Linked DNA regions of Homo sapiens: all the other regions are linked to region 1. Evidence: fine-mapped expression QTL. A gene starts in region 1. Each other region holds a variant in brackets. All regions are shown on one strand. Distances are from middle to middle.

Region 1 (8,110 bases):
AAAAGGTATTGGGATTCTGGGGCCAGAGGAATAGAGATGAAAGCATCTTTTAGGTCTAGGAGAAACATTTTGCATCCCCTGGCACCTAAGCCAGGAGGGTATATGGATCCACCACCAATGGGTGGACGGGGATAACAGTGTGATAAATTATTCTGAAATCCTGTACTAGCAGGTATTCCCTCAAGGGCTTTAGAATGGTTAAGATGGGGGTGTTTCAGGGAGAATTGCAGGTTTTTAAGAGCTCATGGGTAAGCAATATCTCAACTATGGATGCCAGGCCTTTTCTTGCTTCCAGCTTAAATGGGTATTGTTTTCAATTGGGGCAATAGCTGGGGTCTTTAAACTGGTATTTTGACTGGCACTGCTGTTTTAGCTTTCCCTGGTGATATGGTTTGGCTGTGTCTCCACCCAAATCTCATCTTGAATTCCCACATGTTATAGGAGACACCCAGTGGGAGGTAATTGAATCATAGGGGAAGGTCTTTCCCTTGCTGTTCTCATGATCATGAACAAGCCTCACAAGATCTGAGAGTTTTATAAGAGGGAGTTTGCCTGCACAACCTCTCTCTTTGCCTACTACCATCCACGTAGGATGTGACTTGCTCCTCCCTTGCCTTCCACCATGATTGGAGGCCTCCCCAGCTATATGGAACTGCAAGTCCATTAAATTTCTTTCTTTTGTAAATCATCCAGTCTCGAGTTTGTCCTTATCAGCAGTGTGAAAATGGACTAATACACCTGGCTTCCCAGCATAACATGCTAGCAGGTTAACCTGTTTATTAATGTGGTCTGGGATATTGTCTGTATTTTTGACTATTAGCAATTTTACTGGGTAATGCTTAAATTTGTAGTAGTGCCCCTATTTTAATGATAATATCGCTTCCCAACAGGTGGACAAGGCAGCTTGGAACTACTAAAGATTTATGTTGGAACATTTGTTTCTCAAACTGACAAAGGAGAAGTAAAGAATCTCGTTTGTGGCTTTCCTTCCATTCCCGGAACACTCTTAGACTGGGAGGAAAGTTTTCCTGCATAAGCAGTAAGGACAGAGTAATTCGCCCCTGTATTGGAAAAAAAAAACTGAATTTGGGTACCCATGACATCTAGTTACCCAGGGCTCTGCAATAGTAATTATGATGTTCCTGGACAGGGGCAGTGAGGAAGACTCTAGGCCCCTTCAGTCTTCATCTAATTCCTCCTTTCACACTGCTAGACTTTTGCCTAACTGAGCCCCTTGGTGGGAGCGGGTGCAGTCAATCCTCTAGTGCCAGAGACCCCTCTTAGTACATTAGACGTCTCTGACCTTAGATTGGTGCCACCACCACTTTGGAATGATTCCAACCACCACTGATGACCCACTGTGAGTTTTCCCTCTTGTCCCTGGATGAAGGTCTCTACTTCTAGAATTAACTTTCAGACAAACCTTTGGATTTTTTTTCCTATCACACTTAAAACAATTCTTTAACTTTCTAAATTTGGACAAGATTAAATTGTACATAGATTCCCTTTCATGAATCCCCTCCATGAGTTACACAGACCACAATATGCCCAAACTCTGTGACTTATCCTTAGCCAGTCAAGTAGGGGGACGGAAGAATTTAACATAAGGAAAGAAGGCTTAAGCCACCTGAAACATGTGTGAATTTTCCCTGGACAGGCTGCCACTGCCAATTGCATCACTCATAGGCATCAGGGACTACAACTGGAAAAGACAGAAAAGAGTCCTTCCCCTTTCTGGGCAAGGCAGCTATCCCCATTCACTCCTGGGCCTTCAGTTAACACCAGAGAGTGGCCCCAGTTGCCTTCAGTTACCAAGGAGCTACTAGGAAATGGCCACTGAAAGACTGAAAAAGAAAAGAACTCAGGTTCCTCACCTGAACCAGGTGGTGGCAGTCAGGTGCTTCCACATGGACCTTTTAGTTTCACCAGAGAGTGGCCCTGGCCAGAAACCTGCAGTTGCCTCCATGCTTAGGCACTGTCCATCAAGGATCCCAGCTTGGAAAGGAAAAGGGAGAGAGAGAAAGAGGAAAAAGAAAAATACAAATCCCAAACTTTGGGCTTACCTTCTGGCTGGCTCACCAAAATATGTTACCAATTGAGGGTAGTTGTCCAGGTTCTTGGTGTTTTGAACGAAGAATTGGACAGAACACACAAACAAGGCATGGAAAGCAGAGATTTATTTTAAATGAAAGTATACTCCACAGAAGGAAAACAGACTCAGTCAAGGGGTTCAAGAGCATCAGCTACAGAATTTTCTGGGGCTTAAATACCCTCTAGAGGGTTCCCATTGGCCTATGCCCAGTCTGATTGGTTGTGGAAGGAGACCAATCAGAGTGAAAAGTAGGCCCTCAACCAGTCTGATTGGTTGAGGGAGGGGCTCTATCAGAGGTTCTTTCATTTTTCAACTGCCACCCAAAGAAAGGAGGGTTGCAACTGCCACGCAGCAACTGCCACGCAGAAAAAAGAGGGGTTGAAAATGGAGTCGCCTCTGATATCAGTCAGCATGAATCAGCCTTAGGTCCCCTGTTTCCAGACCCTATTCTCCTACCTAACATTGTTTCTACAGAATTCTATTTTTATTTCATTCACACTAAAAGGGCAGAATCTCTTAAACCAAAACCATCATCATGTCACAAACCAGACTATTTTCCAACCTTCATTTCAAAATGACCACTATCACCTTTTCTCACTCTTAGTCGGGCAGTAGAATAGGGTCCGGAGGCAGGGAACCTAAGGCCCATTCACGCTGACTTCCTAGAACTAAATCAAAAGGAAAACTCCAACTTTCCAAGCCCAAGTAACAAAAAGACCAGAGGCTATTCCCTTTGCAACCCCCTGCCCAACCTTCTAGGCCCTTGGTATCTGGGCCTAGTCTTCATTTCCATAGGAGTACAACTTTGTAACTTAACTTTAGCCTCTGATTGGTTGCAGGCTACTCCTTAATTTACAGAGGGTGTAAACCAAGTAACCAATGGGAAATCTCTAGCGGATATTTAAACTCCAGAAAATCCTGTAACCAGGGCTCTTGAGCCACTGGCTGGAGGCCATTCCCACTCTGTGGAGTGTACAGTCATTTCAATCTCTGCTTTCCTTGCTTCATTCTTTCCTTGCTTTCTTTGTGCGTTTTGTCCAATTCTTTGTTAAAAAAACCAAGAACCTGGATGACTTGTAGTCAAGACCCTCCATGGGTAACATTGGGACTATACAAAAGCCTTAGAAATCGTGGAATGATTTTTCAACCACATTATCTGATTCTAATGATGAACAGACCTGTAGACCGGTCTGAATCTTGGGATTTGCCTATCAAAAAACTCGGCTTTCCCTACTGCACAGGTCTTCAGAAGCGCATGTCTAACAAGGCTAATATTCCATCATCGGGATCAAATTGCTCACCGGATAGTAAAAAGACACTACAGAATTTCAGGGGTTCTCTGCCAATGAGAACTTCTGAATTATGTAGAACGGATCAGCTACTAAGCAGTGTTCTATCTTCCTACTCTTCTAATCGATTGTCATCCCTTAAAGCGCTGCTAATTCTAGAAAACAATCTATAACCTGTTAGAATCAGCGCAAGCTGGTGATGACTACAAGTCCCATGATGCAAAGTATGAGCACGGACCAATGTTGGTCGCAGTTCCTTCTGGGAATTGTAGTCTTCTCCTGTTTGGCAAACTAGGTATTGTAGCCTCCATTTCTCAGAAGTTCAGTTGGAAAACTAAAGATAGTGCAGAGAATGTCGATTTCCTGCCACAAGATTACATTTATCTTCGCTACCTGAGCGCCCAGCCGATCAACTCCAGTCGCTCCTCCGGTGGGCGGGCGCCCATGCCGTGACATCACTTCCGGCAGAGATGTGTGTGTGACGCTCTCTCTCTCTCTCTCTCGCTCTCGCTCTCTCCCTCGCTCGTTTTCTTTCTCTTTCTCTCTCTCTCTCTCTCTCTCTCTCTCTCTCTCTCTCTCTCTCTCTCTCTCTCTCTGTCTCTCGCTCTTGCCCTCTCTCTCTCTCTTTCTCTCTGTCTCTGTCTCTCTCTCTCTCTCTCTCTCTCTCTCTCTCTCTCTCTCCCTCCCTCCCTCCCTCCCTCCCTCTCTCTCTCTCTCTCTCCCCCCCCCCCCCCCCCCGCCCAGTTCGGCCCCTCCTTCCACACAGCAGGGATCTTGGGCCCGGGCAGAGACTGGCTGAGGCGGGGAGCAGCTGCTTTTGGGGCGGGGGTGTCACGTGAGGCTTCTCGCTGCTGAGGGAGGAGGCGAAAAGCTGCGGTTAAGGAGAGTCCGGTTTAACCGTCACCGGGAAGCGCGCTCGTTCGGGATCGCCGAGGGGGCTGAGGTAAAGACTGGGTCATTACCTCAGGACAGGCGGTCGCTGTCCCGGGTTCTCGTACGGGTGACACCTGCAACCTTGATGTCTGGCGGGCGGCAAGGGGCTCCGCGGGAGAGTGGAGAGGCGCCGCAGGAAGCCCAGCCACCTTCAGGCCACCGCCGACCCCACTGTGCGTCTGGGAGGCGCTGGGCGCGCACCGGTCAGCGGAGGCGGGAGAGTCTGTGATCCCAGGGAGCTGCGGGTCTCGCCGCCTGCAGTGCGGAAGACCCGTGACCGGCGCAGACCCCGGCCTTACCTTCCGAGGGTCGAACTGTGCCTGGTATTTGCCTCTTTCCTCCCGCCCACGGGGTTGCTCAGAGTCGGGCCACCTCACCTGAGGTTTTCCAGAGTGAGAATGAACTGAGCGTCCTGGGAGCAACTCCGCATCAGGGTAGAGGCGAAGACGCTCCTAATGAGCACAGCACGTTTTTTTGTTTGTTTGTTTGCTTGTTTTGTTTTTTTAACGCTTGGGTAGCGCTCACATCTTCGGACGTCAGTGGTTGTGTTGATATGTATTGATATGCGACCTCCCCCCAGCCAGGCGGCCTCAGGTAGTAGAGTGGCAAAGGCCAGGTAGATCCCTCGGACCTTGAGAAGGTTGAGATTTCAGACTTACTTGTTTTTGGGGAGGCCGTCAGGCGGAACCGAGGAGCGGTGAATCAGCAGCTAAAGTTTCATGAATCTTTGATAATGGGGAAATGTTGCCGAGAGCCACTTGAGTTAAAAATCTTTTTTTTTTTTTTTTTTGAGACGGAGTTTTCCTCTTGTAGCCCAGGCTGGAGTGCAATGGCACGATCTCGGCAAACTGCAACCTCCGCCTCCCGGGTTCAAGCGATTCTCCTGCCTCAGCCTCCCAAGTAGCTGGGATTATAGGCCTGCGCCACCATGCCCGGCTAATTTTTGTATTTTTAGTAGAGACGGGGTTTCACCATGTTGGCCAGGCTAGCCTCGAACTCCTGACCTCAGGCGATCCACCCGCTTCATCCTCCCAAAGTGCTGGGATTACAGGCGTGAGCCACAGCGCCCAGCCCAGAGTTAAAAATCTTATTTCAGCATCTTTCCAAGTCCAGGTGACTCATTTCTTACCTTTCCCACCAGTAGAGTTTCGTATGAAAAGTTGGGCAGTTATTGTTGTGTGTAGTCTTGTCATTTTGTTGGTCTGTAGTTGTTACAGTTTCTTATGAGTTTATTATTTAACAAAGTAATAGTAAACCATTTCTTCTTTGTGTTATGATACTATTCTGACACAAGATATACTGGTCCGTTTGATAACAGATTCTTGAGTGTAAGTTATAAAGATTTAAATACCCTCAGTTTATCGTAGAGCAGAATTAGTGATGACCTGTAAGCTGTGAAGAACGGTTACAATTTTCACTATTTAATTTTGTTGCATATAAGTTCAGTGTTCACTGGGTTTTATTTGAGTAACTTGACCAAGTGTGTATTTTTAATCCTGGGTTCTATAGAATTATACTATGTAGCATCAAAGCATCTGGTTCATTGTTACTACTCTGTGTAAATCTTTATAGTTTCACTAATTAAATTGAAAGGTAATGTGAATAGATTTCCTCCCTTTCTGATTAAATCCAGAGGTAATGTAAATAGTTTTCTTCCTTTTCTTTTTTCTCTCTTGTACTGAATGTAGTACTGTCAAGATGATAAGCATGGAATAAAGCTTCAGAAGGGTCTTTACCAATCTTTCTCCTACCAACTTTTACATACATGAAATCAGGTTAAAATGAACTTTACAGAAATACTTCACAAGGGAATAAAGTAGAGGAAAAAGGGATAACATGTAACATGGAGTCAAGGAAAAAGAGTGTGAAGTAGTTTTGCTCTCTCTATCTTGCAAATAGGAGTCCTTAAAGACAACTGGGAGAAGGGGTTTGAGGTATGTTTTCATTCCAAATAAAATAATAGTGTCATAAAATTGAAAAGAATACTTTTCTTTTGAATCCTGCTGCACATTAAAGACTAACCTTTTAATATGTCCTTTTCATTTTTAGATAGTGAATTCCTAAGAAGAAAATAATGGATTGCATATTAGTTGTTCTCTAAGTGGACTCAACAGTGTGCAAGCTTGTTGGAAAAGCCAAAAGAAGATGGCAACTCCTTATGTCCCAGTTCCTATGCCCATAGGAAACTCTGCTTCCAGTTTTACAACAAACAGAAATCAAAGAAGTTCTTCTTTTGGCAGTGTCTCAACAAGCTCAAATTCTTCTAAGGGCCAGTTAGAAGACTCAAATATGGGTAATTTTAAACAGACAAGTGTTCCTGATCAAATGGATAATACTTCATCTGTCTGTAGCAGTCCCCTCATTAGGACTAAATTTACAGGTACAGCTTCTTCCATTGAGTATTCTACTAGACCAAGAGACACTGAAGAACAAAATCCGGAAACAGTGAATTGGGAAGATAGACCATCTACACCTACTATACTGGGTTATGAAGTGATGGAAGAAAGAGCTAAATTTACTGTAAGTATTGACTTCTGCTGTATAACACTACAAAGTGAAAGATTGGCTAATCTCTGTGTTCAAACCAGTGTTAAATTAATGTAAACTTGTACTTATAATTTCTTGAATATGAAATTCTAATGGTTTTTACACCACTGAATTCTATCATGTTGTAGTAAACTTTTGCTTTACCTTAATAAATTTTCACAAACCAGACACACCTATGTAACTATTAATAGCACATAAATCAAGGAAAAGAACGTTACTAGAATCTTAAATGCTCTAGGTTCTCTGCCAGTCAGGACCCATTCACCCAATACTTTTGTATAGCCTAGATTAATTTTGCCTATTTTTGTACTTTATCTAAATGGAATTATATACTCTTTTTGCATCTGGTCTCTTTTCTTTAGCCTTGCCAAATTACATGCCCAGCTTTAAAAGATATTGGTGAACAGTGTTTCAGAATGGTTGTACTGATTTATACTCCTAAAAGCAGCATATAAGAGTTCCAGTTGATCCATAGCTTCCTAACATGTGATATTTTAACATTTTTATCATTTCAGCTGTTCTCATGGGTACAGAGTAATATCACATTGGTTGTGGTTTTAATTTGAATTTTCTTAATGACTAATTGAATTTAAAATTTTTTTGGGCTGTTTGGATATTCTCTTGTGAAATATCTGTGCATGATTTTTGTTCATTTTTCTTTTGGGAAGTCTCCCTTTTGATTTGTAGTTTTCTGTGCACTTTGGATATAATTTTTTTTTCAGATACATGTATTATGACTATCCTCTCACTCTGTGGTTTGCCTTTTCAATTCCTTAATAATACATTTGATAAACAAAAGTTCTTAATTTTAATTTGGCTTGATTTATTACTTTTTTTAATGGCTAGCACTTTTTGAAATCTTTGCCTACTCCAAGGCTACAAAGATACTGTCCTATGTTTTCTTCTAAAATCTTTATTGTTGGACCTTTCACATTTAGATTCGTAAACCACCAGAATTGATTTTTGTCCATGGTGTGAGGTGAGGGTCAAGTCTTTTTTTTTTTTTTTTTCCAGATGGGACCAATTAATCAGGCTTTTATTTGAAAGACCACTCTCTCTCCTCTTCATTTTCAGTGTTGTCTGTGTCATAAATCATGTGACCATAAATGCATGGGTCTGCTTCTGTGTTCTATTTTTTCATCCTTTACTAATTTCACACTGTCTTAATTAATAAAGTCTTATAATAGGTCTTGATATGTAGCAGTGTATGTACTTTAGCTTTTTTCTTCAGGATGGCCTTGGCTATTCT
Region 2 (8,110 bases), 70 kb before region 1:
GGTTGTGGAGGGAGGTATTGAGGATAGGAGAGTATATGGGTTTGGCACCACGGGGTGGATAGGCAAGACAATTTGGTTGATAAGGCACAGATCCTGAACTAACCTGTAAGGCTTGTCCAGTTTTTGGACAGGTAAAATGGGGGAATTGTAAGGAGAGTTAATAGGCTTTAAAAGGCCATGCTGTAACAGGCGAGTGATAACAGGCTTTAATCCTTTTAAAGCGTGCTGCGGGATGGGATATTGGTGTTGAGTGTGGTAAGGGTGATTAGGTTTTAATGGGATAGTAATGGATGTGTGATCGGTTACCAGGGAGGGAGTAGAGGTGTCCTATACTTGTGGGTTAAGCTGGGGGGATATGAGAGGAAGATGTGAAGGAGGCTTTGGGTTGGGAAGAAGGGTGGCAATGAGATGTGGCTGTAGTCCAGGAATACTCATGGAAGCAGATAATTTGGTTAAAATATCTCGGCCTAATAAGGGAACTGGGCAGGTGGGAATAACTAAAAAAGAGTGCATAAAAGAATATTGTCCAAGTTGGCACAAGAGTGGGGGAGTTTTAAGGGGTTTTGAAGCTTGACTGTCAATACCTACAACAGTTATGGGGGCAAGGGAAACATGCCTTTGAAAAGAAGGTAATGTGGAGTGGGTAGCCTCCGTATTGATTAAACAGGGGATGGACTTACCCTCCACTGTAAGAGTTACCTAAAGTGTCTGTGATGTTCCAGGAGGCTTTCTAGGCAATTGGGCAGCATCAGTCTTCAGCCGCTAAGCTGAGAAGATCTGGGAAGGAGTCAGTCAGAGAGCCTTGGGCCAGAGTTCCAGAGGCTGCTAGGCGAGTTGGACAGTCCGATTTCCAGTGGGATCCCACACAGATGGGACATGGCTTAGGAGGAATCCTGGGCTGGGGGCATTCCTTGGCCCAGTGGCCAGATTTCTGGCACTTGAATTAAGATCCAGGGGGAGGAGGTCCTGAAGGAAGCCCTGACCACTGTGGCTTAGGCGTTTTGAAGTTCTTGTGTGCTGGAGATGTGGCTGGAGTTTCTCTCACAGTGGAAGCAAGGAATTGCAACTCAGAAATACATTGCTACTTGGCTGTCTCTATTATTGTACACCTTGAAGGCAAGGTTAATTAAGTCCTGTGGTGGGGTTTGAGGGCTGGAATCTAATTTTTGGAGCTTTTTTTTTTTTATGTCAGGAGCTGACTGGGTAACAAAATGCATATTGAGAATAAGATGGACTTCTGGCCCTTCTGGGTCTAGGGCTGTAAAGCATCTCAGGATTGCTGCCAAACGGGCCATGAACCAGGCTGGGTTTTTCATATTTGATGAAAAAGAGCCTAAACACTAACTGATTTGGGAGAGGTCAAATAAAGAAAATGGAGCATTAACCTTGGCTATGCCTTCAGCTCTAGCCACCTCTTTAAGAGGAAATTGTTGGGCAGGTGGGGGAGGGCTAGTTGTGGAACAAAACTGTAAGCCAGACTGGGTGTGGGGAGAGGAGGTGATAGAAGGATTACAGGGTGGAGGAGCAGAATCTGAGGAAGAATTGGAGTCTGATTCAGCCTGGTGGGGAGTGACCTGAGGAGCAGTCTGGGGATGAGGGGAGAGGTCAGATGGATCGGTAGAAAAGGAAGATTGAAAAGACTCAGCAATGCTTGGGGTTGGGACTGAGGGCACAGGCAGGAGGGAAAGAAGGAGGATTTGGGACGAAACGCATTGGGAACAGAGACTAGGGAGGGACCGATGTGTAAAAGAATGCCTGGACGTCAGACACCTCAGACCATTTGCCCATTTTACAACAAGAATTATCTAGATCTTGTAGGATGGAAAAATCAAAAGTGCCATTTTCTGGCTATTTGGAACTATTGTTGGGTTTGTATTGGGGTCAAGAGGCATTTCAGAAGAAAATAAGGCATTTAGGTTTAGGTCAGGTGTGAGTTGAAGAGGTTTTAAGTTTTGAGAACACAGGCTAAGGGAGAAGAGGGAGGAATGGAGGGTGGAAGTTTGCCCATAGTGAAGGAGGCAAGCCCAGAGAAAAGAAAGGGTAGAGACATGGAGAGAAGTGGTGGGGGGTGCTTGCCCCCCAGGAAAGTGGAGAGAAAAGAGAGGGTAGAGACAAGGAGAGAAGGAATTTCACAAGGTAATGTCATCAGTTAAGGCAGGAACCAGCCATTTTCATGTCTTTTGTGATTCTTCACTTTCTTCAGGCCATCTGGATGTATACGTGGAGGCTTGGGCTCAGAGGCCTGGCACTGCTGATCATCAGTTTCAGGTTTTTCTGTTTATTGGGAGACTGCCTTTCCCTGGCACTGGCTGTGACCAATTATTATTTTAGAGAGGCAGTTTAACAACTACCTGACCATCACCTGATGGTTGCCTGACATTTCTGGTGGGATGGGGAGCCTCTCTTGCCCTGCTTATTTATGACTAGTTACCTACCATAATAATAGCAATGATATCAACTATGAATTACATGTATTGAATATTTATTATGTGCCAGGTATTTTGCCTCTACTATCTCAATTAAACCTCAAAGAATCCTCATTTTATAGATTTTTAAACCAATACTTAGAAAGGATATCTAAATTGTTCATACCTAGCAAGTGATAGGATAGGGATTTAAACCAAGGCAGTCTGATTCCAAAGCCACCATGTTTAAGCAAGCTGCTACACAGCTCAAAACAAAGATTTATGCATAAAAGAGTAAGAGTGGCAGGTAGATTTTACTAGAGCTGAGCTCAAATATATAAACCAGGCATCAAAAGAAAAGGATGATTATTGGTCCTACAAAGAAAAATAAGGAAAGGGTAATTAACGATCTGTTGGACCAGTACTAAATAGAATTCAAAGGTGCCTTAATCCCTTCTGGAAACATTCTCTAAAACTCAAGATTGATACAGGAGGTAGTTAGGCATAAACCACAATTAACCAGTGCATGGGAAAGGCAAAACTAAGGGTTTTAGGGAAGTTGAAACTTTGCCTCTGAAAATTTGAGTCTAAGTCTGCTGAAATTATTTGACAATTTTGAAAATAAACACAATTTAAAAGCTGTTGGAACCCCCAAAACACTTTAAGCCTTAAGAAAGATGTGACTGTGATCTGAGTCACATATGGTTACAACTTCTATTTCTCAGATTATAAATTAACTCACTTTCTTATTTATCTTTTTCTTCAC[A/T]GTGACTAGACAGAATTAAATGATATCAGGGACACAAACCTCTGCCTTTTAGTGACCCTTGTTACAGATTAATTTCTCATTTGTTGTCCTGCTTTGCTTAGACCAGATGACAGAAAACCCATGACTATTATGCCTTCCGTAAAAAGTGTTAAATATACCCTTCCCCAAAAGAAAAACCATCTGTAACCAATCACATTGCTGTAATTATGCTCTAGCCTTGTATGTAAAATGTTGTAATCCTGCTAAAACTCATCTCCCTCTGCCTATCTAAATGAAACCTAAACTTTCCTACTTCTGAATTCTAATTCCATCCCTTAGAAGTTGGTATTTCCAAGAAGGCTATCCTTAAATTCTGCACTTGAATAAACTCTCTTTAAATTAGATTCTGACTCTTTTGATTATTTTAGGTTGGCACAATAGATTATCAGGAGAAAAACAAAACTCATTGTATGCATAGGCATGGGGACCACACACAAAAGTATGAGACTCAAAGAAATCTCACATTTCTTTGAGAGTACTGAAGTTTTAATACCATATGGAAAGGAATAGAGGCTTGGAACATGGAGATCAGTTATGGGAGGGAGAGGGGAGGAATTGCATATCAAGCAAAAAGTATCTTGTTATGCAAATGAAATCTCTCAGGTAGCAGCTCTCAGATTAGATAATAGCCTATAGTGAAAGTTTCTCTGTTAGAACTTCAAAAGTGTCTCTTTTTCCTAAGTTAATCTTTCCTAGATCAAGATAATGTAGATAAGGTCTCAGAGAAATCCTGTTCGCATCTACTGTTTACTTCGCTAATGTAGATTTCCTCTACAGATGTAAATCTCCTCCACAAAAGGACAACTCTTCAGAACTATTCCTTTGTCTGTAGCCCCTCTGAATATCCATCTCAAAATATGCCAAAAAAGTATATTTTGGGGTGAGATACTCTACTTTCCTTCAGGGTGAACATATTTTAAGAGTTTACTTGTAAGTCATGGACATAAACGTGGAAATAATAGACACCGGGGACTCCAAAAGGAAGGAGGGTGGGAGTAAGGGTGAGGATTGAAAACTTACCTGCGGGTTACAATGCCCACTATTTGAGTAATGGGTACACTAGAAGGCCAGTCCCCACTAGTAGGCAATGTACCCATGTAACAATCATAAATATGTACTCCTTGAATCTAAAACTAAAAATTAAAAGTTTAAAAAAGAGTTTACTTATAAGTGATTTAAATTTTTATTAAGCATATTTTAATAAAAATAAATTTAAATCAATTCCCATAATGAATAAAGTATTAAAAAAAGAAAAGGAATATGAAAACCTACATGAATCAAAAAAGATTGACATAGAGATTTGCATGGAAAATGGGGGTGATGGAATCATGTGGTTCAATATTATATTGGTTTCAATGGGCCATTAATATTCATTTTTATGTTCAAATTGACATTTGTTTTCCTCTTTTCTATAATTTTTATGGTGGCAATTACATATTCCATATCTGCTGACCCATGAATCAGATATCCAATGAGACCCTCAGTAGTCTGATCCAAGAAAGGAATTATCTGGCCTTTTGAGGAATAGAGAGTAGAATCGACCTGACTGAAAATGACTCAAGATTCTACCACACCTGGTCTATATTGAGATATGGGTTTTAGGACCCTTTAGAATTGAAATACCATCTTCTTGGAGAATTTCATTTCCAAGTTTTGTGAATGTTAAATATAATGAACCCCAAGTTACTCTTCATATGTTCAGCTCTGTTATTCTTTTATTCTCCATTTTAAAGTTTAACTTCCTGGTTCTGTTCGCTCCCTTGCTTCTAATTTCAGTAAACAACTTTCCCACCAGTCCTAATTAGTAGTTCACATCTGTTCCCTGGTCACCTGCTCCATCCTGACTCATCCTGATCAGCTGCTTTGACCTAAGTCACTCCTGGTCACCTGCTCTGACCTAAGTCACCTCTAGTTACCTGTTCCTAAACGTCCTTCCCACCAAACTACTCACCCCACCACTCTGGCTCATACCCCTGACCTCTTTAAAATAGCCAATCAGAATTAGCTTAGACTGTGCCATCCAACCGTAGCCAATAGGGGAACAACACAGCAGTAGGGGCTACCTGCATCAGGAATAAGAACTCTTTCCCCTCCCCTGTCCAGGTATGCTCTTGCCATTACTCCATTCACAAGTCGCACCCTTCTATAGAAGTAAAAATTGCCTTGCTGAGAGAATTAAATTTATGTTCGAGTGCTATTTCTTTGCAGCACCAAGAAACAAGCATTTTGCATTTCTAACATGAATACATTTAAATATTAAATTTATAAATAGATGGATTGGTGGAAAAGTAGATAAGTGGCTTTCTCAGAGAACTCGTGAATATGCAATGTAAACTATGATGTGAGAAACTTAGTATAATCAAAAAGAATGAATTAAATTCAAATTTTTATCCAAAATAATACACTTTTGAGATTCCATCAGTAAATTGTTTGCCAAAATTACATAGGCCAAATGTAATATTCTATAAGACATTTCATGGCTTGTAACTTTGTGTGTAAAAACAACTCTTTAACTCTCTTATTCTCTAATTTGGCTCAATTTTTCTAAAGTTTCTCTTTTATATGGCCATTCAACGCAGCATGATTGCTGCATATAATATAATATGACAAGATTGCCCATTAACTTGTTTTCTAAAATACCCTTAAGTAACTGAGTTAATACAATATTTAGAATGGAGCAATCAGGTGGGAAATCTTGCTCTTAACTGTAGCGACTGCTGAGCACATAGATTACAGCAGTCTCCCTTCAGCCTTTTATTCATGAGCCTTCAATGACAATTTGTTCCTCCAGGAATCTAGTGCTCCAAATCAAACAAAAATTTTAAAGACAATGTTTTCTTCTTTAGAAAACAAATTTTAAAATATAATAAAGAGAATTATTCTGCTTGCTTTTTCTTCCTGTGTCTATGAAAACGTTCATACCAGTCTCCATTAACTGCTGAAGTGTGAAATGTATTCAGAACTTTAAAATTAATGTAGTTAACGTATGTTATTTCAGAAGAGAGTTTTTGTAAATGTTGGTCTTTTAAACCTCAATTTTTTCTTATCTAGTAAAGTGAAAATGTAGGATATACTGTTAAATGACATTTCTCTAACTACAACTTAAAGAATCAATTTTTTATCAATAGATCATAAATATTTGTATCTACCAGACATTATATATCGTTTACAACAGAATCTCCTGAGTAGTTACTATTTAATGCAAATTTCTAAGCTGTTGTCTAGATTTACTGAATCAGAATTTCTGGATATCAGGCAAGGTAAACTACATTTTAATTAGTCTCCCAAAGGTTCTTTGGACATATTAAAATTTGAAAGTGTTTGAATTATAGATTCCATAATTCCTCATCTGGATTCCTGGACTTATTTACTGAAGCTTTGTGCAGTGAAAAATACATGTATTTCTACCATATACATACATATGACAAATAAGTTACCAAAATATAATATTCAGATTTTAAATGTAGACTCATTATTTATAATATATTTTTATTTTCAAATATATAAGCCATAATGAATGAGATTTAAGGGAAATTTGATTTTTATTATTGTTAATGGTATTTTATTATTGTTAATGGTATGTGTATCAACCTTAGACCCAGAGCCAGATCAATGAAGTCATTACTTATTTATTCTTTAAATAATCTTATGCCAATCCTTCTACTAAGTGCTGGAGATACAAACATGTATTACACATAGTCCTTCTAGCATTAAACAAAAAAGACTGAAAAACAGATCTCAGCAATATAATGGCTTAATGCAGCACTAGAGATATGCAAAAGTATTTCTGGAAGCACCAAAGAGTACAACTATCTCTTGTTGGGTGGAAAATGAATGGAAAGTATAAAGAAAGGTTCCTTGGAGATGACACATGGGTTGGAACTTAAAAGTAGGAATTAGGTTGCATAGGATGAGAGTTAGAAGCATTCTAGGCACAGACTGTAGAATGAACAGAGATATAGAGATAAGAAATAGCATGGTATGTGCGATAAACTGAGTCATGTAGTGAACTGAAGAGAAAACGGAATGTCAGGAAATGGTTTAGATTTGAAACTTGAAAGACAGGCAAAAGCTAGATCATTAAATGCATAGTGAGAGATGTAAATTGTCTTGGACTTTAAATAATTTTTATTCTGCTTTTCCCTTCTCTGGGACTGAAAATACACATTTGATAGACTACTTGATATTGTCCCAAAAGTTCACTGAGACTGTGAAAGGAAAATAAAATTTTGGGACACCAAACTCACTATATCAAAGGGAAGTTCAGCTTGGGAACAGAGTCACACAAAATCTACCTTCCTTTTTGTTTCTAAACAGATAACTACAAAGATAGGAAGCCACATATCTCTCTAGATGGCTTCCTTCATAAATTCCTTCCAAGAGAATGGCTTATGGACAACAAAATCTTTACCCTAAAACATAATTTTGTTGAATTTCATCCATGTCCCTGCAAAGGACATGATCTCATTCCTTTTTGTGGCTGCACAGTATTCCATGGTATATTTGTGCCACATTTTGTTTATTCAGTCTATCATTGATGGGCATTTGGGTTGGATCCATGTCTTTGCTATTGTAAATAGTGCTGCAATAAACATACGTATGCATGTGTCTTTATAGTAGAATGATTTATATTCCTTTGGGTATATACCCAATAATGGGATTGCTGGGTCAAATGGTATTTCTGGTTCTAGATCCTTGACGAATCACTATACTATCTTCTACGATGGTTGAACTAATTTACATTCCCACCAACAGTTTAAAAGCATTACTATTTATCCACAGCCTTGCCAGCATCTATTGTTTCCTGACTTTTTAATAATCACCATTCTAACTGGCATGGTTTTGATTTGCATTTCTCTGATGATCAGTGATGTTGGGCTTTTTTTCATATGTTTTTTGG
Region 3 (8,110 bases), 250 kb after region 1:
CTGACAACCCAAGGGTGGGTTTATTTCCTCTCCTGAGTCTTCTGCATTTCTTCATTCAGACCACTTACCACACTATGTTATAATTGCATTTTGCCTGTAAGGACATGACTATAAACACTGTGGAGGCAGTGTTTTGCTCATTCTTGTACTCTAATTATCTGGCACAGTGCTTGGCAAATACCAAGTTCTTATAAATACTTGTTGAATAAATGAATGAAATCTTAATATCTAATAGCATCTCTCTTATGCTATTTTATACTCAGGTTTGAGGGCCATAATTTTATGCGCACCTGCAAATAATAGATAGTCTAAAAGTAGTCCAGATTTTCTCCTTTTCACATAAAGGACCAGCTCATATAATACTTGATTTGTTAAAAAACAAAACAAAGCAAAACAAAACCCCATGAAGCACCCCAAAATCTTGCAGTCATTTCAGATCAAACTGACAGATATGAGATGTGAAAAATATAATAAAACAAATATTTTCTGCTATAAAACTGAAATGAAGGAAATTTAAATGATTATGTAAAATGCATCTATATTGACAACTTTATCATACTGAGAAATTTGGATGATTTTAGCCCACTAAAAACAAACTTCACTAAAGTGGGCTAAAGACTGTTTTAGCCCACTAAAACAGTCTTCACGAAGAGCAATCCCCATAGTGGGGATTTACTCAGTCCCTTCCATTCAGGCTCTCTCTGCCTCCTCCCTCCATCACAACTAAAGCCCTGAAGGAGAATAAACTTTAAAGACAAGATTAATTAGATTACACTCCTTCAAAACCACATTATAGTTTGTAGATCAGCCTCGGTGCTGACCTGAAGCTTGTATGCTTTGCTGGGATAGTTACTAAGGGGTTCTTACCTTTTTGCTTGGTATAAAGTTGACACTGAGTAGTTATAAAGTCCTTTTTAGTTCCTATCCTGGGTCAAGCCAATTTGGCAAAAATCAAGTTCCTGGGAAACACTATTATATAGTTTGCCCTCATTTCCACTTTCACCAAATCTCAATATAATTACTTTTACAAAGCTCTGTGAAAGCCTATTTGAATGTTATTGTAAGCAGCAGCCAGTGACCTCTGAAACTCATTTTGCATCACTGTAAGAATGTTCATTGTATCTCACAAGGTTCTCTTTGTTACTCCCTAGAAGAAAGTTCACTATGATTTTAAGATTTTAATATAAAAAAAAACTGTTCTTTTCCCGAGTCCTTATGTGTTCATCTCCAAGGTCAATGGGAACTTGCTTAAATTATACATTCTAGGAGCCTACCACAGAGCTACAGAATTTGAAATTATGGTTATCATTTTATAAGCTCTTCAGGTGACTCAGATGCACACAAAACTTTGGGAATCTCTCTTATAGACCAGAATTATGTAATTGACTAGGTTTCTCTTCAAATGTGGCCACTGGAAAACTTATAGACAAATTTGTGATTCCCTGGTAGCAATTGTGTGGAGCATTATGCTTTTTAGTTATTTCTCTGTCTGCTGTGTTTTCATCTTTGATTTGTTTTTATTTCTATTTTTATCTCACTTCTAATTTAAGTTCTTGTTATGTTATATATCCATATAGCCATCTAAAATGATTTTTTGAAACAGGGCAAGAAACAGGCAGGTAGATAGCCAGACAAATAGAAAAATAATGATTACACTCAGCTTCTGTAGAGAACAAGGTATTCTTGGCAATTGGTGCAGAGTAAGCACCCTTGGCAGACCTGGAGAAAGCTGTGTGTGTGTGTGTGTGTGTGTGTGTGTGTATGCTCACTTGTGCTGGAAGTATGGAGGAGGAGGTTGTGCATATGTACTAGAGAAATACAGTACTTGTTGATCAGTGAATGACTTTTTTATTTTACTGTCATAAAGCAACTATATGTCCTATTTTCTCTTTATTAAACTCATGGTACCAGCTAGAAAACTTCTGAAACAGTGGCTTGGATGTTTGGTGAGACAACTTTTCCCCATTTGTGACTTTTCTTGCTTGGGCATAAACCTTTCCTCCTTAATCACTGTCTTGTATTCATTACTTGCTAGCTAATCACCATAAAGCCACTAATTTATAGGAGCTTTAAAGAATGATTCTCAGAATTACTGGCAGTGAAGGCTACCCCTAGATTGTTTTGAAATGTTTCCATAAGGGAAAATTCGTTCTAGCCTTTCTATCTGTACCGCAACCTCCCTGCCTGTGAGAATCACTACAAATGGAGTTAAGTCAGGAAATTGTACCACATCGGGACTGGGGACGGTCTGATTTATCTGTCTGATGATTGGCCATGTGTTACAGCTGGAAAATACAGATTTTCTTATTTTGTTTTACTCTCCCCAGTCATTTCCATGAGGAACCTCCAGTGAGACCAAAATTTGAGACCTCTCAGCTAAATGACTCCCAGAAGCCATTAGAGGACGCAGTGTAGTGCCACTTTCTGCCTTGGAAACCAGGATTGAGGTTTTTGGGCGTCATTGCATTTACTGTGTTTTCACTTTTTTAAATACTTACTTGTCACATGCCTTCATCTTTTCTGAAACATAATGACAGCTAGGCTTCATCATACCAACAGCAGCTTTATAATAATTGGGCAAGAATTGGGCCATTTTCATCCAGCTGAAACCCAAGTCTGACTAATTTAATGGGGAAATATCCTTTAGTGCTCCATCAATCAGCACAGGGCTTGCCAAACTGCTTCTAAATTCTGAGGTAAGTATTAAGCAAAGGGACCCACCTAAAGACAAATTCCTTCAGTTCAACCAAGCTTCTGAGCACCTGTTTTCTGGAGGTATGGGCAGGGCATTGCAGGGGTCTGGAGATGAGAAGGCTGAGTGCTCCCCCTCTGGATAATTATAGTTAATAAGAGGAGCATTTAGTGAGTACCTGGTAGTTAATATACATGATTTAATTTAATTTGAAAAAGTTGAGCATTACTCCCTTCTCACAAATAAGAAAAAAATAAGTCTAGAATGGATAAGGAAACTACTCCTGACTATGCAGATAGGTGTTAGAATTAGGATTCAAAGCACCTGCTTTTTCCTGTGTAAACAAAAAGGTATCTGAGATATGTCTCAATCAATTTAGAAGTTTATTTTGCCAAAGTTAAGGACATGCACCTGGGTGACAGGTCTGTGCCTTTCTTCAAAGATGATTTTGAGAGCTTCAATATTTAAAGGGGGAAGGGTAGTGGAGAAAGGGGAAAAATATTTAAAAGGTGTGAGTAGATAAGAGGCAAATGGTTGCATTCTTTTGAATCTTTGATCAGCCTTTCACATGTGAGAGGTGGGCAGAAGAATAGTCACTTTGTTTTTTTTTGAGATGGAGTCTTGCTCTGTCGCCCAGGCTGGAGTGCAGTGGCGCGATCTCGGCTCACTGCAAGCTCCGCCTCCCGGGTTCACGCCATTCTCCTGCCTCAGCCTCCCGAGTAGCTGGGACTACAGGCGCCCAC[C/T]ACCGCGCCCGGCTAATTTTGTTTTGTATTTTTAGTAGAGACGGGGTTTCACCGTGTTAGCCAGGATGGTCTTGATCTCCTGACCTCGTGATCTGCCCGCCTCGGCCTCCCAAAGTGCTGGGATTACAGGCGTGAGCCACCGCGCCCGGCCAGAATAGTCACTTTTGCATTTATCTGACTCAGTGAACCTGCATTTTTACATAAGATAAAATAAACACAGGGCAAAGGAAGCAATCAGATATGCATTTGTCTCAGTTGAGCTGAGGGATGACTTTGAGTTCTATCCTTTCTCCCGTATCTATCAATTTACATTGTCAGTGTGAAATTCGACAGAACTGTTTTAGGGTAAGGATCTTGGGGACCACAAGGAATCTCCTAGTGAGAAAATTGTGAGAGAGGTATGTAGCTTTTAAAAATCTTTGTAGCCATCTTATTTAGGAATTAAATGGGAGGCAGCTTTGCCTGTTACGCAGTTCCCAGCTTGACTTTTCCCTTTGGCTTAGTGATTTAGTGGTCCTGAGACTTATTTTCTCTTCACGCCTCATTGCTGTACCACATCCAGCATGGGGGTGTGTGGGTATAGGGGGAAGAAGACACATAAATTAATGTGTCTTATTAATAAATAAAACATTATAAATTAATAAAAATTATATTAATAACCCTAATACCAAGAAAAAAAATAAGGAAGGTTTGATGAAATTAGACAACAATGTGTGATAAAGATTTGGAGGGAAAACTCCCAGGAGGAATTGGAAATACTTTGTGGAAAAGTTGGCTTTTGAACTTGAAGGCCTTAAAGAATGGATGAAATCCAGAAAGATAGAGATGTGACTGGCATATCATGAAGAAGAAATAGTATAAGAAAACCCTGGGAGACAGGGAAAGACTGATTAGTTTAGGGAAGGGCGAGAACTCTGGTTTAGGGAGCATGCACTTAGGTTTAAGAACATATTGGGAGACACCCTATTGCACAGGGTCCTGGATGCCAGGCTGGGCTGCTCAAGGCTGTTGAACAGCAGAGAGATTAATGGCAACTTGCACACCGGATTCAGAGATTGATGAATGGCAGCATGCAGACAGAAGTGTATTCAGAAATAATAGAAGCCAGTTAAAAGGCTTTTATAATAGTCCAAGAAATGATGAATGAGGGCAACTTGACTGTGGGCAGCAGGAACTCACAGGACAGGGACAGATCAAAAATCCTTGGTAGAGATATCATCCATGGGATTTTGGCAATCATTAGGGACATTGTGGTGCAGGAGCAGATTTGGAGATGAGTTCTTTTTGGCACATGCTGAGCTTCAAGTAAGAGTAGGAAATTAAGGTAGAGATATCCAGAGGGCAGCTGGAATCGCCAACTGAGTGTGGGAAGGAGAATTAGGAAGACAGAGTTGTCTGCTGAGAGGTGATAGTTAACACTGTAGGACAGGTGTTTGCACTAAAGCAGAAAGATGAAATCAGAGACGAAGGATCCTCAGAGCATCTACTTAGTGTGAATCTAGCCTCTTGAAGAAAGGTTTATCAAAGAGGTTGTTACATGCAAAATAAAAATAGTGACTCTAAGAGCATTTTAACCTACCAGAAACTGATATCTTGACCTCTCTAATTAAGATGTTTGTTGTCAGTTATCACCCTAATCTGACTGGAGAAAACAATCAGGGTGAGATGAAGAAAGAACTGCAGAGAATCAATTGGCAAGCTTATCTTTCAAAACTCCGTGTACAGAAAAAGCTTGACAAGGAGGGAAGAACCACTTCTGTGAATTTAATGAGGTTTGGATGACAGGCTGGGCCTCTTGATTTGCAATATTCAGGATCACCCTGTTTTGGTTTTTGTTTTGTTTTGTTTTTTAAAACTGTTGTCCTAAAATAAGCCCTTTTTCATTTGTTCTTTTTGGTTTGTTTTACTGTGCATTGTGTAATGTGAGCAGACAATGATAATTCCTCTTTAAAATTCAAACATAAAGAGTAGGTTAAGAGAGATCCACCATAAAACCTGTTCCTGCACCTAGTAATTTTTTCTGCTTGTTCTAGCACTGGAAGTTGATCCTGCCTTTTTACCTAGTGATTACCCAGGCAGTGCTACAACCTGAACAAATATTTATTGTAGCCAGAAAACACTTCAAATGGTAAGACAACTCTTTCAATATTTACTATTCTGCAATTGGCCAGAACGCTAATGACTTTTAAACACACCAAGAAAGATTAATAGATTTGAATGATAGCTATGACACTCTCAAGTTACTTGGTTAGTGGCAAGTAATGGTATAGAGCATATAATGATTGATGAAATAACTACTATAGAATAACAAAATAGTACCATGCAAACGGGCTCCTTTATACTGGCATTAGATTCTACTCACAGCAGGTTTTGCTGCACATGCAAGGGCAGCTCATTTCTGTCCAGCTCATATAACAACTTCCTTGATAAATCTTTCCCCAATAGGTTGGATCCACACTAAGAAGATCCTCTAAGGAAAAATTGTTTCTAAATCATCTTATCCTCCTGCCTTTCTGCAGTCACCTCTTCTACAATGTCAACTATCATCTCTCAGCAGATAACTCTTAATCTTCCTAATTCTCCCTTCCCAAACTCAGGTGGCTCTTCCAGCTGCCCTCTGGGCATCTCTACCTGGACTTCCTATACTTGCTTAAAGTTCATCATGTCCCCAAAAGAACTCATTCCCACATCTGGTCCTGCATCACCATCTCTTTAATCATTGCCAAATTCCAATAGATGATATCTCTAGCGGGTTTTGAATCTATTCCTCTCTGGTAAGTTCCTGCTGCCCACAGCAGAATAGGCCCTTTCAGGGGAATACATTCCTCCAAAAGTTGAAGGCACCTTTAGCTTCTCCCTGATTCTTCTAGTGGTAAAACCCAGGAGAGTTGGCAAATGAGAACCTGTTTAACCCCTTTCCCATTCTCCCTGAGAGTAATTGCCAGTGGCGCTGACAGCTGCAGCATTTACTCCGAGATAACTTCCATGAAGTATCTCACTTTTATTATTATTTTCACATCTCTCTAGTATAGTGACTTTGGAAGCAAAATCCATCATTCTATTTATAGCATTCTGTTTTTAGAGGTGGTATTTCCATGTACAAAATACAGTAATTCTCATTCACTGAAAATGTCAAATCCTAAAAAAACATGGTATTCCTACCGTTGTTCTTGAACAGTTGTTGGCCAAAGATTCATTTGATGAATCAGATTTTTCCAAAATAGTTTTAATGATTCAGACAGTTTTCATATTAGTTCTGTTTAGAGATAATTCAAAGAACAATTTTTACATTGTATTTTCATGTTGAAAATCAGTGAGATTTGCTTCAGCCTCAAAGAGCAAGTTTATGTAAAATAAAATGAGCACTGGCAGCGAGCTGCACTTTTTTTTTTTTCTAAACAGGAAAAGGGCTAAAGATTTAAAAATCTTCCACAGAATCAGATCTCACTTATGTTAGACTCATTTTCTTCACCTACTCTTTAAGAAAATGGAGTCGACATATAGCTCTGAAATAATTCAACTGAGCCATCCAGGAAGGGGTTGCTTTCTGTTTTCTGGACACTCATGCAGGCAGTGGAGACATCGGTGAGAAGGGCTTTGCTGTCAAATAGTCCAGAGTTTGACTCTTTGTTCATTTATTTCATTATCCTTAAGTCATTTAACCAGGTGTTTCTGGAGAACCCAGTGGAAGGTTTCAGGTGCTAGGGTTATAATGATGTTAGTTGGAGAAGCAGACAATTAAAAAAAGCATAACACAATGAAAATCAAGACAGGGCCACTCAGAATTACTGGGTTGTCTGTAATTGACCACATGGTCAGAGAAGTTCCTGAGGTGTTCTGGTCCGTCAGTTTCTGTGTGATCTTGGGCAAGTTTCTTAGCTTCTCAGTTTTCAAACATGACTGTTGGAAAGACTCAATTTAATAATAATTGCAAACAACTAAGTACATAGTCTGGCATGTAGAAAGCACATGATGATAACAATCTAATATTGTTTTAAGTTTCCCAAAGACAGGATTTCAAATTGTTTTGTTCACTCACTGCTGTATCTCCAGGGCATGGAACCGTGCCTGACACATCGCAGGTATCCAATAAATATTTATTAGCTGAATGACTTCAAGGATGAAGAGAACCATAATGGAAATAAAATACAACAATGCAGATGAAATTAAACCACAAAGAAGTTCAACATTGCTTGCTGGAGCCTTGATAAATTGAATCTAACAAAGTCTAGCTTTTGGGGAATCCAAAACAAAAACCAAAAAAAACTCAGTCTGCTCCTCCCATCTTTATCCACTAGAGGGAGGCTATTACTTAACATAAGTCAGTGTTTCCCAAGCTCAGATGAAGCTGTTTTAAAATGATGAGTTAGTGGAACAATGATGAGATCTAATGGCCTGTCCTGCACATTTTTATTTAAGTAGATGGTTAAAATAAATAGTCTCAGGCTGGGAGGGGTGGCTCACGCTTGTAATCCCAGCACTTTTGGAGGCCGAGGTGGGCGGATCACCTGAGGTCATGCGTTTGAGACCAGCCTGGCAAACAAGGTGAAACCTCATCTCTACTAAAAATACAAATATTAGCCGGGCATGGTGGCACGCGCCTATAGTCCCAGCTACTTAGGAGGCTGAGGCAGGAGAATCGTTTGAACTCAGGAGGCGGAGATTGCAGTGGGCC
Region 4 (8,110 bases), 47 kb before region 1:
TAATGTATCTGTACCTCTGTTTCTTCATCTATAGAGTGGAAATAATAATTATAATACCTTCTTCATAATGTTGCTTTAATAGTTAAATGAGTTAATACTTTCAAAGCACTTCAAATAGTGTCTGGCATACAAGCAAACCAGCATAAGTTAACATAAATATGATAGAATCATGGTATACTGCTACTAAATGTAACTTTAGATGTTGTTCATTTTATGTGTAAATTTAACACTTGTATGATGTTAAAAATACTTTTTATACCTGCTTTTGGGATTTTAGTATTTAAATTCTGAAAACAGCAAGAAACTTCTAAATATTTATTTATGATTTGATAATAAGCAGAATTTACTTAAAAGAGAGCTGCCATCCAATATAGAAATTGGTATTGTGACATTTCTGACACTGATATAAATATGAACTTTATGTTTCTAATGGAAACTATGCCTGCAATTCTCATATGATAACAGGTATGGGCAGTGATGTACCTACAGTTACCATCTTCTTGATTTTGAGCAAATTTTCTTATTCAAGCAATATTACTTTATCACTTCTATTTCAGACATTCTGCTAAGTATGGGCAAAAAATATTAATGAAACTGCTTTTATAGTATTTACTGTAGCAGAGGATAAGACATTAAAGAAGTCACACAAATGTGAAATTTCAATTGATATATATGAATTTGAACATATTAATTTAGGAATTTGACCTAGTCAGGAATTTTCTGTAAAGAAGAGATAAATAATAAGACTGAGTCCTAAAAGGTGAGAGAAAATTAACTAAATAGATGAAAGAAAACCATTCCTAAGAAAATAGCATGAGCAAAATCTCATGGAATGAAGTGAAGAGAGTAAGGTAAATGAGATCTTTAACAAAGCTGTCTAGTAGGTAGAGAACAGATCATGCAGAGATTACAAGGCCATGTTAAGGAGTTTTGCCCACATTCTATGACCAATGGAAAGCCATTGAAGGATTCAAACCAAGATGTGGAGAAGAGAAAAACATGACCCAGTTGACTTTTAAACAAGATCAGCCAGGCTGCAATGAGAAGATAAACTGATAGAGGAGTCAAGAGTTAACTATTAAATAAATCAGTTGGGAAGCTATTTCAACATGATGCTTCATCTAACAGGTGAGTGGTGGAGATGGAGAGAAGTATAAATTCAAGAGATACTTAGGTATCTTGATGATTCACCAGATGTGGAAGATGAGAAAGAAGGAGACATCAAAGATGATTTCTAAGTTTCCAACTTGTATAACTGAACCAGATTTGGGAAAAGAGGACCATTAATTTTTTTTTCTTGGTCATGTTGCATTTGAAATGCCTTTAAAATATTCAAGTGAATATATTAAATTGGCAGCAGGAAAATGTCTGATTATAAACATAATAAAGTAACTGGTACCAGACTATTCCTCCCATGGTAAATGACTGTAAAATTGGACAACACACATAGCGATATTGTCAGACATTAGTCAAAAGGCAGCACAAAACTCTGATCCCTGAGAAAGAGGAAACACACAAAGTAAGCCCCATAATTGGCCTGAATTTCTACAGGGGAAATCTTTCCAGACTATAATGCAGGGAGGCAAGTTAAGCAGAGCACAGCAGTATCATTGAGCTGAGGAAGCAAAAATCAATGTTTAAAGTTGCTAAGAAGGCTGAAGTATGTGGAACTGGCTACTGCAGACAAGGAAGCCATGAAGACAAAGACCTCACAAATCTATATAGGGGTCCTCTTACTACATTGGCTAAATTCTAAAGCTGTGCATGCACATGGTGAGACTCAGGAAGATGGTAGAGAACAACTGCTAGGTATTTGTGAAATAAAATGTATATCTTTGTGGTTTCAAATTGGTTGAAGAAATAGAAATTCTGACCAGCAACCATGGAAAGATCTTGCTAAAAACCCCAGGCGCTCAGTTGAGACTTCTTACAAAGGCCATAGCTTAGAAGCAGAACTACTCTAGCTATAGAAGAAGATCTACCCTAGACCTTTAATAAAGTTGATATAGCTTAAAAACAGGTTTCAAAGAATTATGATGATCCACCAGTAAATTTCCTGCCTGCCAGCTCAAAATCCAAACTTTTAAAGAAAAAAAATCATACTTTTATAAATATGTTTTACAATATCTAGTACACTATCAAAAATTACTAGATGTGAAGAAATAAGACCATAGCAGCAGAGGCTACTTTAAGATATCCCAGCAGCTAAACCTAAGCCCCAATGGTAAAGAAAAAGAATAAAAGCACAATGCACCCAAGACAGAGAAAAAAAAAAAAAAAAAAAGTAACAATAAGCATAAAAAGAAGAAGAGAAAGAACAAATAGAACATCAAAACTACTAGATCAGACAGCATCCAAAAATAAAGAACCTATGATTTAAATACCGTGAGATTTCTGTGAGTCAAAAATTACTAGATATTTTTCTTTAAAAAATTAAATAGTTTAATTGAAAGAATGGCCACTATTGATAACCCAATTAGTGTCTTTAAAGATCCAGAGGAAAACATATCTCAAAAGAAAAAAAAATTTATGGAGAAGTTAATCATAAGGAAAAAGGAAAAAATAGATCTAAAATATCTAATAAATAAATCATGAAATTTCAGGGAAAAAGTAACAAAGAAAAAATTAAAGACATTATAATGAAAAAAATTTGTGATTTTAAAAAATGTTTTGAATCTGTACGTTTAAGGTTCTTACTGAGGTTCAGGAAGATTTTACAAGACATACAGTAGGGCATACATGGCAATAATGGAATTTGAAGGTGTAGTATGCTGAATAATGACCCACAAAGATGGCAATTCCTAATCCCTGGCACCTGTGAATGTTACTTTGAATAGTAAAGTCTGCAGGTGTGATTAAATTGAGAATCTTGATGTGAGATTTATCCTGAATTATCTGGATAGGGCCTAAATGCCATCATATGTGTGTATAAGAGAGCATCAGATAGATACTACACACAGAAGAAAAGGCCAAGTGACCACAGAGACAGAGATTGGAGTGATGTCCAGTCTCAAGGAATGCCAGCAGCCATCAGAGCCTGGAAAACAAGATTTATTCTGAAGGCTATTCATTGCTCGTCTATTTTAATAATCCCCTAAACATTTAAAGCAAATGTCTGTAGCACATTCAGGAGCTGGCAGAGGCAAAGGGTGGAATCCCCCCTAGAGCCTCTAGAGGGAGTGCACCTCTGCCAACACCTTGATTTCGGCCAGGTGATACAGATTTCAGCCTTCTATTCTCCAGAACTGTAAGAGAATAATTTTTTTGTTGTTTAAGCCACCCTATTTATGATAATTTATTACAGCAACCACAGAACACTAACACAGAAGGTAAAGAGAAAATTTTACAAGTTTTCAAGGAGCAAAAACAAGTTACTCAAGATTGAAAATAAATGAAAAAATATAATTCCATAAGAATGAAGAAAACAGGAGAGTAGAGAACAACAAACAAGAGCTGTCAAAATTATCATGAAAGATATGAAACATAATCATGGTACAATCTACATGTAGTTCAGTGGTCAAAATATTCTAAAGATTGATAGTGAAAACCAAAAATAGTGATAAAACTACATTGAGAGGCAGTAGGAAGGGGAAGTCATGTAAATAAGATCCATCCTTAACTACAATAACAGAAGCCAATAGATACCTAAAATTAATAAAACAAAAGCTAGCAGCAGAAGCAGATTCTTTAGAAATAGTGGAAATTATACAGATGCAAAGAAGCGCGTGCAGCTCTCCTCTAAAGGGCAGGATCTGGGGTGGAGAAGAGCGGGGTAGAAAGCTACTGTGTTTGCTATAAGTTTTTAAACTGATTTTTCCTTACGTACATGTACTGGATTGATTAAAATTCAAACATAAGAACACAATTACCACAAATAACAAGAAGCTACTGTCTTCTGGCTCGTCACAGTAATTGAGGCCTCCCTTCTCTTTCTCGATTCTAGGGGGAAATAAGCCAATGGGTCATTAGCTCATTGTGACAGCCTTAAGAGACAGGAACCTGCAAGATCCTGACAGAGAGAAGTCTTTGGAAAGGCAGTAGGGGAAATGCTTCGAAAGGTCTGAGCTCTATTCACCAACTGGGCTGCTACAATTGGTATTACGCATTCATCAGAATGGACCTTTCTCCAACTGTCCCAGGACTGAAAAGATATCGATCCTGGCTACTCATGGCCTAGGAGGAACCACACTGGAGCTGCCCAAGCTCCAGGGATAGAATATTCTATCACCGAGGGTTTTCTGCTCTGAAGCCAAAAGTGGAAGAATGAGACCTGAAAAACTATTCAGTCTTAGCTTTTCCTATTATGGGCTTGTGCCCACTAAATAGGATGTTTTTGTTTGTTTGTTCAAGTGCCCAATACTAAAGGGGGTATCGATTTATTTGAACTAGGCAAGTAGACTAAAGTGAAGTGCAGTAAGTGATGGTTAATCAATAGAGTCAGCCTTCAGAAGCTATTCTGCAACACTCCAGAGTAACTGTTTGCTATTCACAAAGTCTCACTGGAGAGTTTCTTCAGCTTCTGACCATCACAGCCTGCTTGGCACTTCCCAGATCTCTCTTACAGTTATCATTCTGTCAGTCTTTTAAACATGGCCATTCAAACCCAGTCCATAGACCTGCAGATAAATATCAAACTGCTGGCTTTATTCTCAGCTCCTTCTCTTTCAAATGCAACACACACATACATACATACACACATACATATACACACACATACGTACATCAGTTAGTACAAACAAATACTAGAGAGGTGTTTTCCTCATTACCGCTTTTGGAGTTCAGCTTGATGAATTCAAAATATATGTGGCATGAGCAAATGAGAAATAAAGAGACAAAGAAGTGCCCTGTCAAGTACAGTAGCAAATATACATAGGGCTTACTACGTGTCAGGCACTTGGGACCTATAAGTAACCTATATTAACTTATTTAATTATCACAATTGCATGAGATAGTTA[T/C]TTTCATAATCCTCATTTAAGACATAGAAATCAAGAGATAAAAGATTTAACTTGCTCAAGGTTGCACAGGTAGTAAGCAACAGAAGAGGGATTTGAACTCAGGCGATCTGGCTCTAGAGTCTGTGTTCTTCACCACAATACAATAATGCCACTCAAGCCATATTTAGGTTCTTAACGTGATAGACTGTGCACGCTTGGTTTCTCTCTAGTTGTTCCTAGCACAATGTGATTATACCATTGGCTCACAAATAAAAGTGTCTAATAAAATCTGCTCAGGGGCATGGGTAATTTCCATAACATCAAGCTACCTTGAAGGTTTTCAAGGATTGGTGTCATCCAGTGTGATGTCATTATCAAGGACAAGAATATTGTTACAGCTAGCTGGTGATGCTGCCTCTCCCTTTCTGGAAAAATACGAGTTAATCTGAGGCCCAACAGACCTTTGCCTGGTTTGCCTGTGGAATAATCCAATTCTGACTCAAGGGCAGGTTTTGGTTGAAAAATACAGTTATGGCTTTGTGGAATTAGGGAAATGATAACGTTTCTTGATTTGTTGACTACTAGAGTCATGAGAAGTGAAAAAGTACGGTGAATCTGAGATTACATGCTCAGAGAAGATGGTACAGTGTTTATGACTAAGCCTGACAGAAAACTGGGGAAGATGGGAAAACTTGTAAACAATGATGAGTAAATCTGCTTTGGCTATACTGAGACTGTCAACAAAGACATCTGTTAGCTTAGTAGCTCTGTGAGCTATCAGTCAAGTGTTTATTGACTGCTTCTCGGGAAGATGCTCAGTGGTAAACATTCTATGAAGACAATCACATTATATAAATGCCATCAAACATGTTGGAGAGATTTCCAGCTAACCTCGCCTGAGTACATCTGAGCAGTTCATTAACATCCGGAGAAACATCCAGATCTGAAACTCGTTATTTTAAATCTTTCCAAAGTGAGACACTCAATAAAAAGATCCCAAAATAAAATATGTTTTCTAGTATTTTGATAAATCAACAGTGCTGTGTTTTTCACAACCATCTGATTCTAGCCAGGATTTTAATGCAGCAGTTTGAGCAAACTTGGGAGCAATAATTTATTTCATTTTCTTGAGAATGCACATTGATTTCCTACATAGAAGCTCCGTAGTTCATTTGATTATTTCTAAGTAATCAGGAGCACCATTTTAAACTAGACTACCCTTTTTTCATAGTCTAGTCTAAACTCTCTTTAGGATGCAAAGATTTAATTTCTATTAGTAAGAAAACAATCACTTGTATTTTATATGCATAAATAAAAAAATGTCTCTCAAATATTGGTTATATTATAGGCTAATGTCTCCATTTATAGAATAATTTACTGCATATACTACAGTTACATACTTTATGCAATAAGGTATTGATTTTCAAACTGCTTTTCCAATGCCCAGAGTTCTAGAGTATTGAGCCTTGTTGGGTGGAAAAAAAGGAGAGAACTAAGTGGCCAAGAAAATTGGACTCTGGGTCCACCAGCATCATTCTAATCAATTTTTCAATCTATTCCTAAGTTGCAGTTTTACATATGATATTATTTGGCAAAAATACTTTCTGGCTAAAAATATATAAACCACCACTAATGGAATTTTGTTATAAAAAATTGAAAACTCATTTCCAGTCTTCACTCTTTACAAAAGATTATTATGTTTAGTGGTTTGCAATATGCTTCAATTATTCTCAGCTAATGGTTTATGTAATGTAATATTAAGTAAAATCTCAACTGTAATCAAGAATGACAAAATATTTGAGTCACAATTTAAGATAATATACTCTCAATCTGAAAAAAAGATAAATATTTAGATACTTTTTTCTCAAATAAGTATATTACCTTTCACAATAATTATCAAAATGGGGGGGAGGTTCTTTTTTTTTTAACACCTATCAACAATCATTCTTAGTTACTTGCACTTAAATTGACTATTTCTCTCTAAAATATTCTACTATCTCCACTAGTTTATGTTTCTATTCTTCCACATGAATAAAAATGAAATTATATAATATGCCTGAAGTTCAATAATTTAATTTTACATTAATCCGTTTGCAGTATTCCTAAATTTATTTGAAGTGTTATGTTATCATACAGAAAATTTTTCCACCTTTATAATGAAAACTATTTCAATAATTTTATTGATTCTTCACAATCTATTTCAAGTTATATAGGTAAGAAATATTCAAAACCTCCTAATACAATTTCCTCATAAATGTCAGTGTGTGACCAAGTAGAAAGTACATATACATGAGAATCATTTTGTGCAAAATTAAGTTACAGATTCTCTATTATTCTTCACCATCTTCTTAAATTAAGACAAACTAATAAATTCATATTACTGAATGGAGACTGAAATTATTTTACCTAACACACTTGTTTATTGTTTAGCATAAAAAAGGTAAAGGCCCTACAAAGAGAAATTACTTCCTATTTAATAGTAATATTGTGACCAAAACAAAGTCTTCTATCTAAAGGCCTTTCAACGACATCATCTTGGAAATCAATATTATAAGCAATAGTATGTACATATAGGTATATATGTATAATAAGGAATTGTAGCTGCATGTCTAAATAGGCTTCCTTGAATTCCTCCCCAAGAAATTAAAACAATAATTAAAACACATAGTACACATTCAATTTACAAGTTTTTACAAGATTCTAAAAATAAGTTGTCATTAACATTCAAATTAAAAATAACAAGCATTAAGGCAGTAAATGGTATATAGGAACTAAGGTTGCTTATGCCATGCAAATTTTCCCATTTGTGGAAGGTCTTTCAGTTGGGACAAAATGAAGAGAGAGACAAACAGCTTCTTGGCTTCCCTTTGCCACTGGCTGCACAAGGCACTAGCTCTTTCCTGTGGCACTCCTGGATCTCTTAACTTTCCCAGGGTTTTGGTTATAGGAGTCATTTCTTTTCTTTTATTTTAGAGATAAGTTATCACTATGTTGCCCAGGCTAGCTTCGAGCTCCTCGGCTCAAGTGATCCTCCTGACTCAGCCTCCCGAGTAGCTGGGACCATAGGCATATGCCACTGCAACCAGCTTTTTTATGTAGCAGTCATTTCTAGCTTTCAGAAAATGTGCATCTGCATCATGGGTGCATTCTCATTTGGGTACTTGACTCTCCCATTC

What was found. PIP is the estimated chance that this variant, and not a neighbour inherited with it, causes the effect.
Region 2: its variant is fine-mapped to the expression of SNX16 in whole blood (TOPMed, PIP above 0.99).
Region 3: its variant is fine-mapped to the expression of SNX16 in whole blood (INTERVAL, PIP above 0.99).
Region 4: its variant is fine-mapped to the expression of SNX16 in whole blood (TOPMed, PIP 0.96).

The regions. Positions count from the first base shown.
Region 1 is chr8:81,838,336-81,846,445 of GRCh38, reverse strand. It overlaps SNX16 (sorting nexin 16), which reads left to right and starts at 4,261. Exons shown (of 8, transcript NM_152836.3): 1 at 4,261-4,324; 2 at 6,364-6,834. The coding sequence starts at 6,460. It overlaps LINC02235 (long intergenic non-protein coding RNA 2235), which reads right to left and starts at 3,827. Exons shown (of 8, transcript NR_170320.1): 1 at 3,775-3,827; 2 at 1,875-1,995. RefSeq lists enhancers at 3,577-3,846, 4,278-4,327, 4,255-5,187 and a silencer at 4,658-4,707.
Region 2 is chr8:81,908,549-81,916,658 of GRCh38, reverse strand. The region is part of intron 7 of LINC02235 (long intergenic non-protein coding RNA 2235); the gene reads right to left. Among named protein-coding and RNA genes, the nearest start is that of LINC02235, 70 kb to the right of the region's middle. The variant A/T (reference allele first, on the strand shown) is at 3,172.
Region 3 is chr8:81,590,682-81,598,791 of GRCh38, reverse strand. No RefSeq gene overlaps it. Among named protein-coding and RNA genes, the nearest start is that of FABP12, 61 kb to the right of the region's middle. The variant C/T (reference allele first, on the strand shown) is at 3,436.
Region 4 is chr8:81,885,691-81,893,800 of GRCh38, reverse strand. All of the region lies in intron 7 of LINC02235 (long intergenic non-protein coding RNA 2235), which reads right to left. Among named protein-coding and RNA genes, the nearest start is that of LINC02235, 47 kb to the right of the region's middle. The variant T/C (reference allele first, on the strand shown) is at 4,956.